Linked DNA regions of Homo sapiens: region 2 is linked to region 1. A link means that fine-mapping ties the variant in region 1 to the expression of a gene that starts in the linked region. Tissue or cell type: nasal epithelium. Region 1 holds a variant in brackets; the other region holds the start of a gene. All regions are shown on one strand. Distances are between the middles of the regions.

The links. PIP is the estimated chance that this variant, and not a neighbour inherited with it, causes the effect.
Region 2: it holds the start of TSPAN9, and the variant in region 1 is fine-mapped to the expression of TSPAN9 in nasal epithelium (TOPMed, PIP 0.90).

The regions. Positions count from the first base shown.
Region 1 is chr12:3,114,731-3,122,905 of GRCh38, forward strand. All of the region lies in intron 2 of TSPAN9 (tetraspanin 9), which reads left to right. Among named protein-coding and RNA genes, the nearest start is that of TSPAN9-IT1, 31 kb to the right of the region's middle. The variant G/A (reference allele first, on the strand shown) is at 3,607.
Region 2 is chr12:3,073,453-3,081,627 of GRCh38, forward strand. TSPAN9 (tetraspanin 9) reads left to right here and starts at 3,927. Exons shown (of 9, transcript NM_006675.5): 1 at 3,927-4,001. RefSeq lists an enhancer at 1-285 and silencers at 67-216, 3,433-3,482, 3,533-4,032.

The DNA of each region.
Region 1 (8,175 bases):
TACTCCTGAGGCTGAGGCAGGAGAATCGCTTGAACCCAGGAGGTGGAGGTTGCAGTGAACCGAGGTTGCGCCATTGCATTCCAGCCTGGGTGACAGAGTGAGGCTCCATCTCAAAAAAAAAAAAAAAAAAAGATTCCCTGTAATCTGATAACATTAAGGAAGAAGGCCAACAGGTTTGTTTTATTGAGATGTTACTCACATACCATAGAGTTTGTCTATCTGAAGAGGACAGTTCAGTGGTTTTTACTATATTCTCAGCGTGTGACCATCAGCACTGTCAATTTTAGAACCTTTTTATCACCCCCAAAAGAAACTCCATTAGCAATCACTCCCATGCCCCCCTTCCCTGCCCCCAGTTTTTCTCCCTGTCTGAGTCAACCATTAATGTATCTTTTGTCTCCATGATTTACCTACCCTGGACATTCATATGAATGGAATTATACAATATGTGGTCTTCTGTGACTGACTTCTTCCACTTAGCATAAGGTTTTCAGGGTTCATCTGTGTTGTAGCACGTGTCAGAATTCCATTCCTTTTTAGGGCTCAGTAATATTCCAGCATACGGACAGACCACATTTTGTTTATCTGTACCCATTCGTCATTGACTGACTTGTGAGTTATTACCACCTTTTCTGGCTTAGACATAATGTGGCTGTGAAGTTCATGTGCCATGCTTTTGTGTGGCCATATGTTTTCAGTTCTCTTGGGCAAATACCTGGGAGTGGAATTGCAGGTGGTCTTAGCTCAGGCTGCTGTATATCACAAAGTCCCACAGACTGGGTGGCTTATAAACAATAGGCATTTATTTATCCCAGTTCTGGAGGCTGGGGGTCCCAGATCGGGGTGCCAGCATGGTCAGGTGCTGGTGAAGCCCTCTTCTGGGTTCTAAACTTATATCCTTATGCAGTGGAAACAGGGCAAGAGAGCTCTCTGAGGTCCCTTTTAATTAGGGCACAATCCCATTCCTGAAGTCTCCATCTTCATGACCTAATCACCTCCCAAAGGCCCCACCTGCTAATACCATCACCTTGGGGCCCAGGATTTCAACATGAGAATATTTTGGGGACACAAATATTCAGTCTGTAGCACTGGGTCATACGATAACTGTGTGTTGAACTGTTTAAAGACTTCCAGACTGTTTTCCAAAGCAGCTGTACCGTTTTACATTCCCACTAGAAGTGTGTGAGGACTCCAGTTTCTCCACATCCTTGCAGACAACCTTTATTTTTATTTTTTTAACAACCCTTTTTACTGTCTGTCTTTTTGACTGGCTAACTACTTCTTAAGCGGACACATTTCTGATTGCAAGACAGTGGGCTGAACTTGATCATTTAGATAAAAGTTTCGCTATTTTCTTTTGTAAAAGCAATGTATGTTTATTGAGCATTCTGGGAAAACAACTTGATCCCTGCTAGTGATGTCCCTGTTGCATTTGATCACAGCCTGCCAACTCTTTAACAGGTCTCTCAAGACCAAGGCTGCTGCCCCTATAAGCTGCATAGCAGATCAGGATGCAGGCCCTGGGGCTTCAGACTGGGGTTCACAAACAAGTTCTGCTGCTGCCTGGACATTTGACCTTAGCAAGCTGCGAATCCTCTCTGAGTCACAGTTTTCTCATTGGTAAAAGGGATGTTTTTGGGTACCTACCATGTGATGACAGGCATCGTACTTGTCTTACTAGGTTCTGATGAAGATGAAACACGGCAATGCTTGTGAAGTGCTGGGGATAATGCACTTCCTGAGCACTTAGAATAAACGATACTCAAAACCGAGAAAGAGCCCTCCGTCCTGAGGTCACGCAGCTCGGCAGGGCTTGTGATTGTTGTAAGGTAAAGAGAGGCCCTTGGAGGAGGAAGGGTCCCCGTAGGTCACCCTCACACTGGATTCCCGTCATGTGGCCAGCATTTGCTTGGCTGTTTCTGCTGATGAGAACTGCCCCCTGCTGCTGCACAGCTCAGGTTTTCAGCCCTGCCTTTCCGGAGCCATCCTTTGGCCGTGCCTCTGCCGTCAGAGCCCGGGAGCGCGCGCCTGCCCTGTCGTCCGCATGACAACCTGGGAGTATTTGACAACAGAACCCCTCTGTCTCTTCTCCAGTTCCATCAGCTGTTTCTCAGATAACTTCATTTCTAAACCCCACTACCTCTGTGGCCGCCCTTGGACGCATTCTGGCTTGGTGGTTGTTTGTTGTTTCCTGGACTCATCCTCAGCCCGAGGTGGCTCTGAGGGGTAGAGGGACATCCCCATAGGGGACAGACACAAACTGAGTGTCAGAAGAGTTATTAAGCCTTTCAGGGTGACAGATCTTCACCTTTACAAGCAGGATGGCTTTAGGAAAGGAAGTAGTCGAGCAGGATAGATAGTCTCATTCTAAATTATGGAAAACATAAAATTCCAGCTAAGGCCTGTCCCCATTTCCCCTCCTGTTTTCCAGGCTGTCTTGGGTGGCTGCACAGACGGTTCCTCGTCATCCAGGTTTCCTGATGGGTGTTGCAAGGGTGACCCATTCTGCTGGAAGGGCTTGTGATGGGAGGGTTTTGAGTTTTCCTGCCGTCATTTCCTATCCTGATAGGGCAGAGTCGGTGGTACATTTTTTGGACTCTGTTTTATAAGCTGCAGGAGGGAGATTGTGGCGAGTGGCTCATTAATAAAAGCACTTCAGCAGAAACAGAACAAGGGGAGGGGAGAGGAAGTGGTGGGACTATTTGCCCGATTTTTGTATCCTAGGGCCTGTCTCTTCCGTTGGTGGGAGAAATCCAAGTGCTTAGCGGTCCCTCTGCTGCTGCCCGTGGGGTAAAAACCTCATCATTTTGTAAAGAGGGGCAGCCTGGAAACCCACCGTGGGCCCAGCTCTGCCCCGGGGCAGGCAGCACACATTCTGGGTATCTCCCACTTCCTCAGGCTGAGTTTTGGAAAGGCCATCCCTAATTTCTTTGTAATTGTGCTCCAGGCTGATTTACATAACTTTATTTTTCTGTGGTTAGTTACTCATTCAGAAATTCTCCTGTCCATCTGTTCTTCTGGGAACCTGAGACTATGGGAACAGCACATCCCAGGAGAATTCTGGCCTGATTTAGGGGGTTGGAGCAGTTGTCCAATCCCCTGAGCAGATCCAGGTCCCGGACCCCTCCAGCGAGAGGAAGCACCTTGGGAGGCAGTGGCTGCTGGTCCTGGGACCTGCGGAGCTGTCACCTCAGGGCTGGGAGGTGAAGGGAATGGCCTGAAGGTGGAGGAGGCATGTGTGGTAAGAGGCAGTGCAGGGAGGTGGTTAGTGCCCCATGCCAGGTTCCCCTCCTGGGCCTGCCACTCTCCAGTTATGTGACATGGGAAGCTATTTAAGACTCTTTTTCTCGCCTGTGAAGTGGGGATTATAAAGGCTCTAGTTCACAAGGTTATTCAAATGTGAAGTGAGTTGATACGTGAAGCATGTAGAACCCCCCCGGCATGTAGAAAATCCTCATCCTCATTTCCAGCACTAACAGCTGCATTATCACATTTACCTGATTCCGCACCGCCCCTGCACCCGCCGTTTTTTTTTTTTTTTTTTTTTTTTGAGATGGAGTCTTGCTCTGTTGCCCAGGCTGGAGTGCAGTGGCATGATCCTGGCTC[G/A]TGCAACCTCTGCCTCCTGGATTCAAGTGATTCTCCTGCCTCCGCCTCCCGAGTAGCTGGGATGACAGGCACCCACCATCATGCCCGGCTAATTTTTGTATTTTTGTAGAGACGGGGTTTTACCATGTTGGCCAAGCTGGTCTCGAACCCCTGACCTCAGATGATCCGACCGCCTTGGCCTCCCAAAGTGTTGGGATTACAGGCATGAGCCACCGCTCCTGGCCAGACCCCTCTCTGCTCTTTTTTTTAATGGAACAGGGATACTTATTTTATATTTATTGACAAACATGGGGAAACATTCCTCTCAGCTCAGCCCCACTGCACCTGCAGCCCTTGGCCTCCTTGGCACTCCCTCCCTGCAGCTGTGCCCAGTGGGTCTCTCCCACTCCCAGCCATGGTGTGAATTGGGCTTATGCTGACTGCCAGGTAGCAGCAGCCTAATTTCTCTGCCTAGTTTCATCATCTGTGACCTGTGGAAAACATTTACGCCTCCTTTTCTTCCCTCCGGCCCCTCCAGAGATGTGATGAGGGTCAGGTGACATGTTAAGCCTGGCACGCAGGTTGCAAAGACAGGCAGGACTTCGGTGGACAGTGTGGGAGAGCTGTGGGCGCAGGACCGAGATCGCCCTGTCCACAGGGACCCTGGAGTATGGATGGAGTAGGGTGAAAATGGAGCTTAGCACCGCCTTTGGGACACTATCAGCAGATGCAACCCCTTGGGCTGTACCCCCGACAGCGAAGGTAGGGGAATGTTGTTTAGAAAGTCAGTCCACAAATGGGTATTCTCCAAGCTGGTTCCCTGACCCCACACTGGACAAGCTGCTATGCTCTCTGCCCTCAGGATGCTTATAAAGTGGCCAAGGGTGGATAAGATACCAGGAGGGAAGTCTCAGTGGTTTGAATAACCAGCAGTTCCTGCTTTACCTTTGATGCATCAGGTGCTGCACTAGACATCTACTTATAGGTGAGAAAAACAAGGCTCGGGGGGTTCACTGACTCCCCAGGGTCATCCAGTTTGGATGCCAGAAAAGGGATGTAAACTCAAATCTGGGGCATTCCAAAGTCCGTGTTCTTTCCAGGTGGGGAAACTTGGGTCTGAGCTTCGCCAGGCCTGCTGGGACTCCCAGATCAGCCCCTGCCTTCCAGGAGCTCCGTTGTGAAATGCCCTTGCCCGTGTGATGTTTGTGTGTGCTTTTTTCTGCAGGAAGTCTTGGCCTTCTCTCCCTCCCCATCCTCTCAGCCCGTCCTGCCCCTGCCCGGAGGGCTGTGTGCTTCACTGGAGGGCCTCTCTGCTGTGAATGCACCCCCGCTCCTCTCCACTGACCACATCCTGTGCACCCCGCTTCTCCCTTCTTTCAGGTCACCTCCTTTGATTTGGGGAAGGGAGTGAGCCATTGGCAGGTGAGAGAAACCTGTGCTGAAAGGTGTGGGTGACTTTGGGCTTTTGCTCCTGTGGGGAGGTGTTGGCTCTTCCCAGGTGAGAATATGCCCTAGCCCAGGTTGGGCTAGGGCAGGAGGGGAAGTACGGTGCCCTGTCACTCAAAGGGCACGGGCCTGGCCGCCAGCGCCCCGGAGTCTGGTGTTGCTCCACATGGGCTGGCTGTGTGACCATGTGCACGTCACTCTGCTTTCTGGGCCTGGGTGCCTCTCTGTAGCGCAAGGAGTTCGTGCCAGATGATCCTGGAGGTCCTTTCAGCCCAGCAGTTCCGCGGTTTCAGATGCCTGCTTGGGAAATTCATTGCCCACTCGTTCCCTCTTCCTTTCCTCTGTTGCCTCTTTAAAATGAAGGTTTACTTTTCAGCTGGTGTTAATTGGAAAGCTTTAATGTATGCTTTGGAATGAGTGGGAGGAATTCCAAGGCCATAACTCCCTGAGCCCTCAAGCGTGGAAAGTTTTTTAGTAAGAACGAGTTCGAACAGGATCTTGGGGGCCTGGGGACAGGACACAACCTTGGCGTGCTCATTCACCTCAGGGAACACAGCTGGCTCTTTGGAACCTGGCTGATTAAACCTGGCAGGACCTGGGTGACAGAAACCCAGCAGGGCCAGAGCTCCTCTGTCTGGGGACCCTTGTGCCACCAGCAGCCACAGCCTTCCCCTGGAGCCTGCTCTCCCCACTCCTGTGCCAGCCCGTCACTCTCTCTTCCCCAGCTGTGCCAGCCCTCACTCTGGCCCTGCCCCAAATACACGTCATGTCCCTCTGGCTTGCCTTCTTTAGCTCAGCCCTTCCCTGTCCCCTCCTCATCTCTCTACCTATTGATGTCACCTCTTTCCTTTTATGCCCAGCGTTTCCTTTCCACTAGCCCAGGTTGGGCTAGGGCAGGAAGTTGAGCTTGGCACGGGCCTGGGCCAGGGACCACATACAGTGTAAACTGGACTGTGGGGCTGGGAGGGCTAGGGGAGCATTGCCGCTGATCAGTCAGTCAGTTAATGTTGACCAAGCCCCCATCACCTGCCCGAGGTGAGGCCGAGCTCTTCCAGTGAATGAAAAAGATGTACACACAGCACTTCCCTTGGGGGAGCTACCCATAATGGGGTAGACCAGCCCCCAGGAGGGACCCTTACGGAGTGGTGGGTGATAAACTGCTTCTGTAAGTCAGAGAGGCGGCTTGGGCCTTCAGAACTCAGGTGGGAGTCAGTAGGCCTGGGTCCAGCCTGCCACTGGCCACTGGCTCCTTTGCAGGTTGTGGCTCAGTCACAGGACCTGTCTGAGTTTCATCTTGTGGAATGAGAAGGTTGGGGTGGGTCTTCCTGAAGTCCCTTCCAACTCTGCATAGTTAATAGTCACCATTTATCAAGTGCTTTCTGTGTGTCAGGCGGTGTGAAATGCTTGACAGACCTAATCCCATCTCATTCTCCCAGAGCGAGGCTCTTTTATTTGCCCTCATTTTGCAGATCTCAGGCTTAGAGCTGAGGTTGCAATCCAGTGGCCTCTAGGTCTGATCCAGGCCACAGATGCGTTTTGTTTGGGCGCAGCTGACATACTGGAGAGATTTTTCAAAACAGGGGATGTTGGCTTTTTTTTTTTTTTTTTTTTTTTTTGAGACAGGTTCTTGCTCTGTTGCCCAGGCCAGAGTGCAGTGGTGTGATCACAGCTCATTACAGCCTCGACCTCCCAAACTCAAGTGATCCTCCCACCTCAGCCTCCTGAGTAGCTGGGACCACAGGCACATGCCACCATATCTGGCTAATTAAAACTTTTTTTTTTTTTTTTTTTTTTTTTGTAGAGACAAGGCCTCACTATGTTTTCCAGGCTGGTCTCAAACTCCTGAGCTCAAGTGATCCTCCTGCCTTGGCCTCCCAAAGTGCTAGGGTTATAGATATGAGCCACTGCACCTGGCTGATGTTGGCTTTTTAAAGTTGGAAGGTCTAGTTACACTGAGCCTGTGCTGCCCGGTGGCAACAATTGGCTGGATCTGGCTCTCAGGCACCACCTCCACATGGGGCTGTGCTTTCCTGACCCCTCAGTCTTGACACAGTACTGGGACTTGCCCTTGTACACAGTAACTTCATGAATTTATGTTTTCCACCTTGTAGGTACTTGAGTTTGCAAACCTTGACTGAAGGCTGTGATGTTATACTGTATCAGTCACACAGCTACTGTTAGGGACAGTGTTCCAGCTTGAGTCTGTCTGACTTTAAACTGTGAACCATCCTGCTGTTTTTCTGAGTTCTCCCCTCCCCTCCCCTCGTTTTTTGTCTTAAAAAGAGATAGAGTTGGCCGGGCGCGTGGCTCACGCCTGTAATCCCAGCACTTTGGGAGGCCGAGGCAGGCAGATCACGAGGTCAGGAGATCGAGACCATCCTAGCTAACACAGTGAAACCCCATTTCTACTAAAAATACAAAAATTAGCCGGGTGTGGTGGTGGGTGCCTGTAGTCCTAGCTACTCAGGAGGCTGAGGCAGGAGAATGGCGTGAACCCGGGAGGTGGAGCTTGCAGTGAGCCTGCACTCCAGCCTGGGCGACAGAGTGAGACTCTATCTCAAAAAAAAAAAGGAGATAGAGTCTTGCTCTGTCACCCAGGCTGGTGTGCAGTAGCACAATCATAGCTCACTGCAGCGTTGATCGGCTGAGTAGCTAGGACTTCAGGCACACACCACCATGCTTGGCAAATTAAAATTTTTTTTGTTTGTATGTTGTCCAGGCTGGTCTCAAACTGGTCTCCTTCTGTCTTGGCCTCCTAAAGTGCTGGGATTACAGGTGTGAGATACCACACCTGGCCCTGAGTTATTTCTAAATCCTAGCAGGGATTTTGAATCTTTTGTCTGAGCCTAGGAGACCATAGATAAGGAAGTTGGCAAGAACCCCTCTTAACAGAGAGGTTTGAGTCCCCGCATCTGTCTGAATGTGCTCCTGCAGGGAGGTGGCGTCCACTTTTGGATGTTGCTCATGTTTTAGTCCAGAGAAAAACTGTCCTCTTGCTACACAGTATGTCCTTTCTGAATTAATTAAATGTCATTGTTTTTTCTCTACCACTTGTTTTCCTACACCTTGGTTTCTATTTACTGGCAGGTTGAAAGCAGGTGACCCCGCCTCCTTGCCCCTAGGAGGGCTGCCAAAATGCCAAAC
Region 2 (8,175 bases), 41 kb before region 1:
TGTAAAGTACTTAGAACTGTGCCTGGCACATAAACAGTACATGTTAGCTGTTAGCTGCTTTGCAAGTCACTTGAAACCTATGGCCGAATGTGAAGTGTTGGCGGAACCCCGCTCCGGCAGCGTGCACTTTCGCCACTAGGTGTCGCAATTCAGCAGGCACAGTCCTGAAGCTTGACTTGGGGTGGTTGGCTGGGACTTTAATTTTAGCCTATTGTCATTTTTGATTTGATTTGGTGATTTCAAGGGGATAAACTGACATGCTATCCTTTGAAGTCCCTGGGGATCCAGAAATTCCAGCAGAGTTGCTGACATCCAGGCCTGGAAGGAGCTGTTTGGAGTCCTGCCTTTGTTCACAGTTAAAATGGCATATAATTTATCATCCACGCCAGGATATTTCGAGAGTGAAAGGGGACTTAGGAACTATGCCAGGACAAGAGGAGTAAGTAGGATGTGCCCCCGAAACCTGGATACAGTCACCCTACCTATATCTAACCTCAGCATTTTTCAGAATCTCCTCCAGAAGGGAAATGCAATGACATTTCCTCAGAAGCCTGGTATGATAAGCAGTGACTTCATGCGTTTGTAAGTCCCTTCCCCAAGAGGGTGGTGCGTCATTGTCAGGTTTACTTGCGTTTAGTCCTCAGTGGACACTATCAGTGTGTCTGCTTCACAGACCACTAGTCACCTTTGTGTCCTTTATGCTGAATAATCCCATCTCCTCTACAGCTTTTCTTCAGAGCTTCCTTCCAACTGTCAGCCCCTCAGAGGCACTGAGGCATTCACCTCTGAATGTGGTGAAGGAGAGTGAGCAGTGAAGCCATTTTCTGGGCTATTGCTGAGGGATTTCTTCTAAGATTTCATCTATCTCTAAGACTTCAGAATTCCATTATTTCAGATTTGCTCTAATTAATTAATTAATTTGAGACAGAGTCTCACTCTGTCACCCAGGCTGGAGAGCAGTGGTATAATCATGGTTCACTGCAGCCTTGACCTCCTGGGCTCAAGCAATCCTCTCACCTCAGCCTCCCGTACAGGCATGTGCCACCACGCCCATGCACACCTGGCTAATTTTTGTATTTTTAGTAGAGATGGGGTTTTGCCATGTTGGCCAGGCTGGTCTCGAACTCCTGGGCTTGAGTGATCCACCTGCCTTGGCCTCCCAAAGTGCTGGGATGACAGGTGTGAGCCACTGTGCTCCGCCTATCTTTTTTTAAAGGGCAGGAGGACTTTGGGAGGCCAAGGTGGGAGGATTGCTTGAGGCCAGGAGTTCAAAACTAGCTTGAGCAACATAGTGAGGCCTCTGTCTCTACAAAACAAAACGAAAACGAAAACAAAAACAAAAACAAAACAAACAAAAACCCCAATTAGCTGGGTATGGTGGCATGCACGTGTGGTCCCAGCTACTTAGGAGTCTGAGGTTGGAGGATCCTTGAGTCCAGGAGTTGGAGGCTGCAGTGAGCCATGATGGCACCACTGCCCTCCAGCCTGGGTGGCAGAACAAGTCCCTGTCTCAAAAACAACAAAACAAAACAAAAACCAAAAAGGGCAGGAGGAAGCTAGCATTTGTAGAGCAGTCACCACACATCACATGTTGTGCTTTTACTCCATCATCTTGGTCAGCCCATCAACCCTGTGGAATTGGTTTTTTTTTTTTTTTTTTTTTGAGACAGTCTCGCTCTGTCGACCAGGCTGGAGTGCAGTGGCACGATCTTGGCTCACTGCAACCTCCGTCTCCCAGGCTCAAGCAATTCTCCTGCCTCAGCCCTCCGAGTAGCTGGGATTACAGGCATGTGCCACCACACCCGGCTAATTTTTGTATTTTTAGTGGAGACGGGGTTTCACCATGTTGGCCAGGCTGGTCTCAAACTCCTGATCTCAGGTAATCCACCCGCCTCGGCCTCCCTAAGTACTGGGATTACAGGTGTGAGCCACCATGCCCATCCCCATAATTGGTATTCTTATGCCCCATTCCACAGGTGAGAAAACAGGCCTGAAGAGGTCCCAGCCGATAAAAGCAGAGCCAGGATTCAGACAGGTGTGTCTGGCTCCCAAGCCCTGCGGCTACTCCCTCACCAGGCTGCGTCCAATGGTCTGCCAGTGAGTTGGCTTGCTGGCAGACAATCCTAGTATATCTCTTTCCCTGTCTGAGACCCAGTTTCCTTTTCTGGGTACATGTACCCAACTCTGCCGCAGTGACTGGAGAGATTGGGGCTGGTGGGGGTTCCTTGGGAAGACTTTGTTATAGGGGCATTGAACAGGGCTTTGGATGAAGCAAAATGTAGAAGGAGAATATTTTCCTTGTGGGGAAAGGGAGATCAGAAGGAAATGGGTTATGGGTTTAGTCTAATAGACAAAAACAAGGTTGCATGTGTGTGACGGAAAGGGGCCCAGAAGATGAGTGGAAACTTCCAGTCTAATTAGCAGAAAGCAAAAGTGACCCTAGTGATTATAGCCAGGTTTTAAAAACTTGTCCCCAGTCAAGCTTAGTGCAATGGTAGGGCACGTGGGAAGCACAGCATACAGTTTCTTTAAAATTTAAAAAAATTTCACTTTTAAAGACAGGGTCTCCCTCTACTGCCCAGGCTGGAGTACAGTGGCATGATCCTAGTTTACTGCAGCCTCCAACGCCTGAGCCTCAGCCTCCGGAGCAGCTGGGACTACAGGGGTGTGCCACCACACCCGGTTAATTAAAACATTTTTTTTTTGAGATGGGGTTTCCCTATGTTGCCCAGGCTGTTCTTGAATTCCTGAGTTCCTGAGCTCAAGCAATCCTTCCACCTGGGCCCCCCAAAGTCCTGGGATTACACGCGTGAGCCACCACACCTGGCCTAGAAGACATTTTTGATGACAGTAATGATGAGAAGAGATGGCGTTTTAGTGCTCTTTGGAAACAAGTTTAGGCCTTCTAGCTTTAAGAATCCGGGCCTATAATCCCAGCACTTTGGGAGGCAGAGGCAGGAGGATGGCTTGAGCCCGGGAGTTTGAGACCAGCTTGGGCCCAGGGAGACCACCGTCTGTACAAAAAAAATCAAAAACTTCGCCGGACGTGGTGGTGCGCGCCTACAGTCCCAACTACTCTGGAGGCTGAGGCGGGATCACTTGAGCCCGGGAAGTCGAGGCTGCAGTGAGCCGTGATCGCACCACTGCACTCCTGCCTGGGCAACAGAGTGAGTCCTTGTCTCAAGAAAAAACAAAACAAAACAAAAAGCAAAAAACACATAAAATCCAGGCCTGAAAAAGCGCCCGGGCCAGACATGCCTAGCTGGAGTTTCTCCTGCCTTAGCGCACCCCTCAGGCACACGGTGCCCTGTAGTCGCCCTTGGAGGCCGCCAGCTCCTGGGGAGGCATGGCCCTTTCTGCGGGAGGTGTCTCAGGCAGGCTCCAACACACACCCGCGCTGTCAGCATCTCGCACAGTCCGCCCGAAACACCAGGGAAGGGGTTCGTAGGTGTGGGGGTGGGGTGGCGAGGCCAGGCAGCCTGGCGCGAGGGAGAGAGCCGAGGCCTGGGCCAGGAAGGCCCTTGGGTGCCGTGTGGGCGCAGAGCCCAGGAGAGCGCACTGCCAGGCCCGGACCTCCCCGCCCCTACCCCGGGAAGAGGCCCGTTCGCCGCAGGGGGAAGGCGGGATCATAGCACCTCGGAGGAGCGGCCGGTCCGGGCATGCGGGCGGCGGGGCGGGGAGGGAGGCTTCCGGAACCCCGAGAGAGCACCCGTGCCTCGCGGGCCCCGTGCCCCGTCCCCGGGCTCCCCTTCCTCTAACGCAGGGGACCCAGCCCGGGGCAGTGCCGGGCACTGGCGCTGGCGCCCCGCTCAGCCCTGCGATCCTTCTCCGCCCCGCCCCTCCCCGCTCCGCCCCGCCCCTCCCCGCTCCGCCCCCGGGCCGCCCCGCCCCGCAGGCTCGCCATTCCCGGGCAGGCCCCGCCCCCTGTTTCCGCTGGCGGCGGCGGCGGCGGCGGTGCCGGAGCGCGAGCAGAGCGGAGACCCCCAGGTCCTGCGGGCGCGGTGAGTGCGGCCCGGGCGGCGGGCGGCGAGGCGGGTCTCGAGAGCGTGCGGAGTCGCGCGGCCTTGAGCCGGCGCCGGGCGGGCTGGGCACCCCCAGGCCGAGACCCGAGAAGGGGGAGCGGCCGGGGGCGCCCACGGGAGGCAGTGTGGGCAGGGCGGCGGTGGGACGAGAGGACGAGGAACAGAGTAGGCGCCGTGCGGGAAGCGGGCCGGGAAGGGGAGGGTGGGTGCGGGGCCCGGGCACCGAGCGAAGTGGGGTCCTCCAGGGGATGGCTCCGAGGAAGACCGTTTCAGAAAGGGAGTAACCCGGGGCCGGCAAGGGTTTCCGACTGTGTGACCCCGTGCACCGCTTGGGACAGTCCATACAAGGACCCCAGAGAGGGCCAGGGGGCCTTCGGGCAGGGCTGGGATATGGCCTGCAGCCCCCCGGCACCCGCGACCGCTCCCTGGGCCACTGCTGGAAGATCAGCACTCCGAGTGACAGGACTCTGGCACATCCCGAAGTTGGAGATCTAGCCCATCTGTGCATTCAAGTTTGGGACTTCAAAAAACTTTCTTGTGGTTTTTAAAAAAAGATCCAAACAAGAAACCGGCTTGTTGTTGTAAGAGCAATATTTGTACTTGTACATCTTGGAACTGGAGTCTTGGATCTCCTCCCTCTTTGAAAAATATACGAGTCACTGCTTCATCTTCCCCCAAATGCCTGTTTTGTCTGGGGAAGCTTGGGCTAGTATGGGATCCCCTGAGCTACCTTTTTCTCGCATCACCAAAACGGGGGGTAAGAAGGCAGGGGCTTACCTGCCTTACCTGGTAACTCTTAGTTCAGAGACCCAGTCTCTCATTATGTGCGCGTGCCCTTCTGACCTGCAGCTGTCCTTTTCCCTGGGGTGACTCAGGTATTTCCTCCTCCAGGAAGCTTTCCTGGACTAGTGGAGAAAACTGAAGACTCATGCGAGGATCCCTATATATACCTGCCAGCTCCCTTCTCTTTACTGAAAATAGCCACAGAGAATGTTGAATATATGCTTTGCTATAGAGATACGCAGCCAGCTTGCCATCATAAGTAATGGGGAGGGGAGGAGAGGGATTATGGATAATTTCAAACAATAGCCTGGACAAATCATTTATATTTAGCTAAGGAATGCAGCCAGAGAGGCAGACAATTACACCGGCTTCCTACCCTCGGCTTGGTCCTGGCATGGCTGATGCAGCTGGGCTGTGGGTTGGAGGGAGAGGATTGGGGTAGATAAAACTTGAAGTGTAATTCAGTTCTACTCTCACTCACTGAAGACGCCCTGTGTGCAAGTCCCTGAACAGGTGAGAGTAGGATTTTTTTTTTTTTGGTCTGGTTTAATCAGATTTTAATATTCTGGCAGAGCTTTTTAAACCTATGAACAGATATTTAATATTAATAACAATAACTAGTGTTGATAAAGTAATTTATAGTTGGCCAAGTTTTTTCTATGCACGTTACATTAGCTGTATATAATTTTATTTAATTCATACGTAATCTTGTGAAATTTGTTACTTTTTTTTTTTTTTTTGAGACAGAGTCTCACTCTGTTGCCCAGGCTGGAGTGCAGTGGCAGGATCTCAGCTCACTGCAACCCCCGCGTCCCAGGTTCAAGCCATTCTCCTGCCTCAGCCTCCCGAGTAGCTGGGATTACAGGCGCGTGCCGCCACGCCTTCTAATTTTTGTATTTTTAGTAGAGATGAGGTTTTGCCATGTTGACCAGGCTGGTCTTGAACTCCTGACCTCAAGTGATCCACCTGCCTTGGCCTCCCACAGTGCTGGGATTATAGGCGTGAGCCACCGCATTGGCTGAAGTTTGTTACTTTTAATTGCCTTCTTATAGGTTAAGAAAATGATACTCAGAGAGAATAAGTATCTTATCTAAGGTCACAACACTCATTAAGTGAAAGAAGCAAAACTTGAACCCTGGCTTCTGACCTTCCTGCCTTGTGCCATCTATTCTGCCATCTGCCTCTCTGCCCTTCTTCTATTTTATTTATTTATTTTTTTCTGAGACAGACTTTTGCTTTTGTTGCCCAGGCTGGAGTGCGATGGCACTATCTCGGCTCACTGCAACCTCTGCCTACTGGGTTCAAGTGATTCTCCTGCCTCAACCTCCCAAGTAACTGGGATTACAGGTGCCCGCCACCACACCTGGCTAATTTTTGTATTTTTAGTAGAGATGGAGTTTCGCCATGTTGGCCAGACTGGTCTCAAACTCCTGACCTCAGGTGATCCGCCTGCCTTGGCCTCCCAAAGTGCTGGGATTACAGGCATGAACCACCGTACTTAGCCCCTTCTTCTATTTTTTTTTTTTTTTTTTAGAGACAGGGTCTTGCTTTGTTGCCTGGGCTGGAGCACAGGGACACAAGCAGCTCACTGCAGCCTCCAACTCCTGGGCTCAAGTGATCCTCCCACCTTAGCCTCCCGAGTAGCTGGGACTATAGGTACAGGCCCCATGCTCAGATAATTAAAAAAATTTTTTTTTTTTTTTTGGTAGAGACAGGGTTGTGCTATGTTGCCCAGGCTGGTCTCTGGTCTTGAACTCCTGGCCTCAAGCAATTCTCCTACCTTGGCCTCCCAAAGTGTTGGGATTACAGGCGTGAGCCACCACGCCCAGCCCCTTTCCTCTATGTTGAGCCTTGTCTTCACCTGGCACCACCTATTTGTGCAACCTTGGGCAATTTACCTCCTCTTTCCAACTCTCTGTTTTGGTGGTATATTGGATTAGAAATATTCTAGAGTCTCTTCCAGCATCAGATAATTAACAGTGTAAGATATTGGCAGCCACTCAATCAATTAGGAAGTGTGCTTTATATAAAAAATTCTAAAATTGTGGTTAAAAAAACACTGAATGTAAAATCTTTTTTTTGTTGTTGTTGTTTTTGAGATGGAGTCTCACTCTGTCGCCCAGGCTGGAGTGCAGTGGCATAATCACAGCTCACTGCAACCTCCGCCTCCCGGGTTCAAGCAATTCTCTGCCTCAGCCTCCCCAGTAGCTGGGACTACAGGCGCCCGCCATCACCCTCGGCTAAATTTTGTATTTTTTTTAGTAGAGACGGGGTTTCACCATGTTGGCCAGGCTGGTCTTGAACTCCTGACCTCATGATCCACCCTCCTCGGCCCCAAAAAGTGCTGGGATTACAAGCATGAGCCACCGCGCCTGGCAAATGTAAAATCTTAAGTGTACATTTTAACCATTCTTAAATGTACAGTTCAGTAGCATTAAGTCTATTTACATTGTTGTGCGACAGCTCCAGAAATTACCTTGTAAAACTGAAGCTTTAATATTCTTGAAACAACTGTTTCCCCCTCCTCCCAGCCTCTGGCAGCCACTATTCTGTCTGTTTAGTGTGCTTTATTAAGCTCCTGCTGTGTGCTTAGTAAATGCTGACCTTGAGGAATTAATCGGGAGAGTTGTGGAGAAGCAGCCCAGCTTAGGTGGGAAGCCCTTGAACCTGGGGTGGCTGGAGGGAGTGCCCCCTTTTCGCAGGCCTGTAACCCCAGGGCCAGCCAGCACTGTTAAGTGAATGAGTGAGTGGGTTGGGACTTGGGCGGATGCCTTCACCTCCTTTAGTCTCAGCTCCTTGCTTGCAAAATGAGGATAACAATACCAAGTACTCAGGGTGTTGGGAAGGAGCCATGAGCTGATGTATGTGAGGCACGTAGCTCAGGGCCTCATATACAGCAGGTGTGCAGTAAACGGTGGCTGTTATTTATAACCTCGTGGAGGAGACTGGACTAAGATGCTTGGAACAAGAGAGGACAAGACTTCTTTTCTCTGCCGTGAGGGCCCAGCCTGCAGTGGTTGTCATCCTCACTGACTAAGAGGGAGTGGATCTAATCCCGGTGCATTCGCCTGGCATTCAGCATCCTGCCTGTCTAGCCTTATCGCCACTCTCCTCCCTCCTGGAACCCTTGGTTCTAGCCAGACTTATCTCCCAAGCATGCTTTGCGCGTTCCTTCTTGGCCCCTTAGTTCATCCTCTTCCACCTTCCTGGTTGGTTCTTCCATCCCTCTCCTCTTTCAAGACCTTTCTCATGTCTGAGCTCCTCTCAAGACCCTGGCATCCCATCCCAAATGAACCTCTTTTTCCTGGGAACCCCGGTGGCATTTTCTGTCTTCATTTTGCTCCTGGCCTTTATATACTTCCTTGGGTGG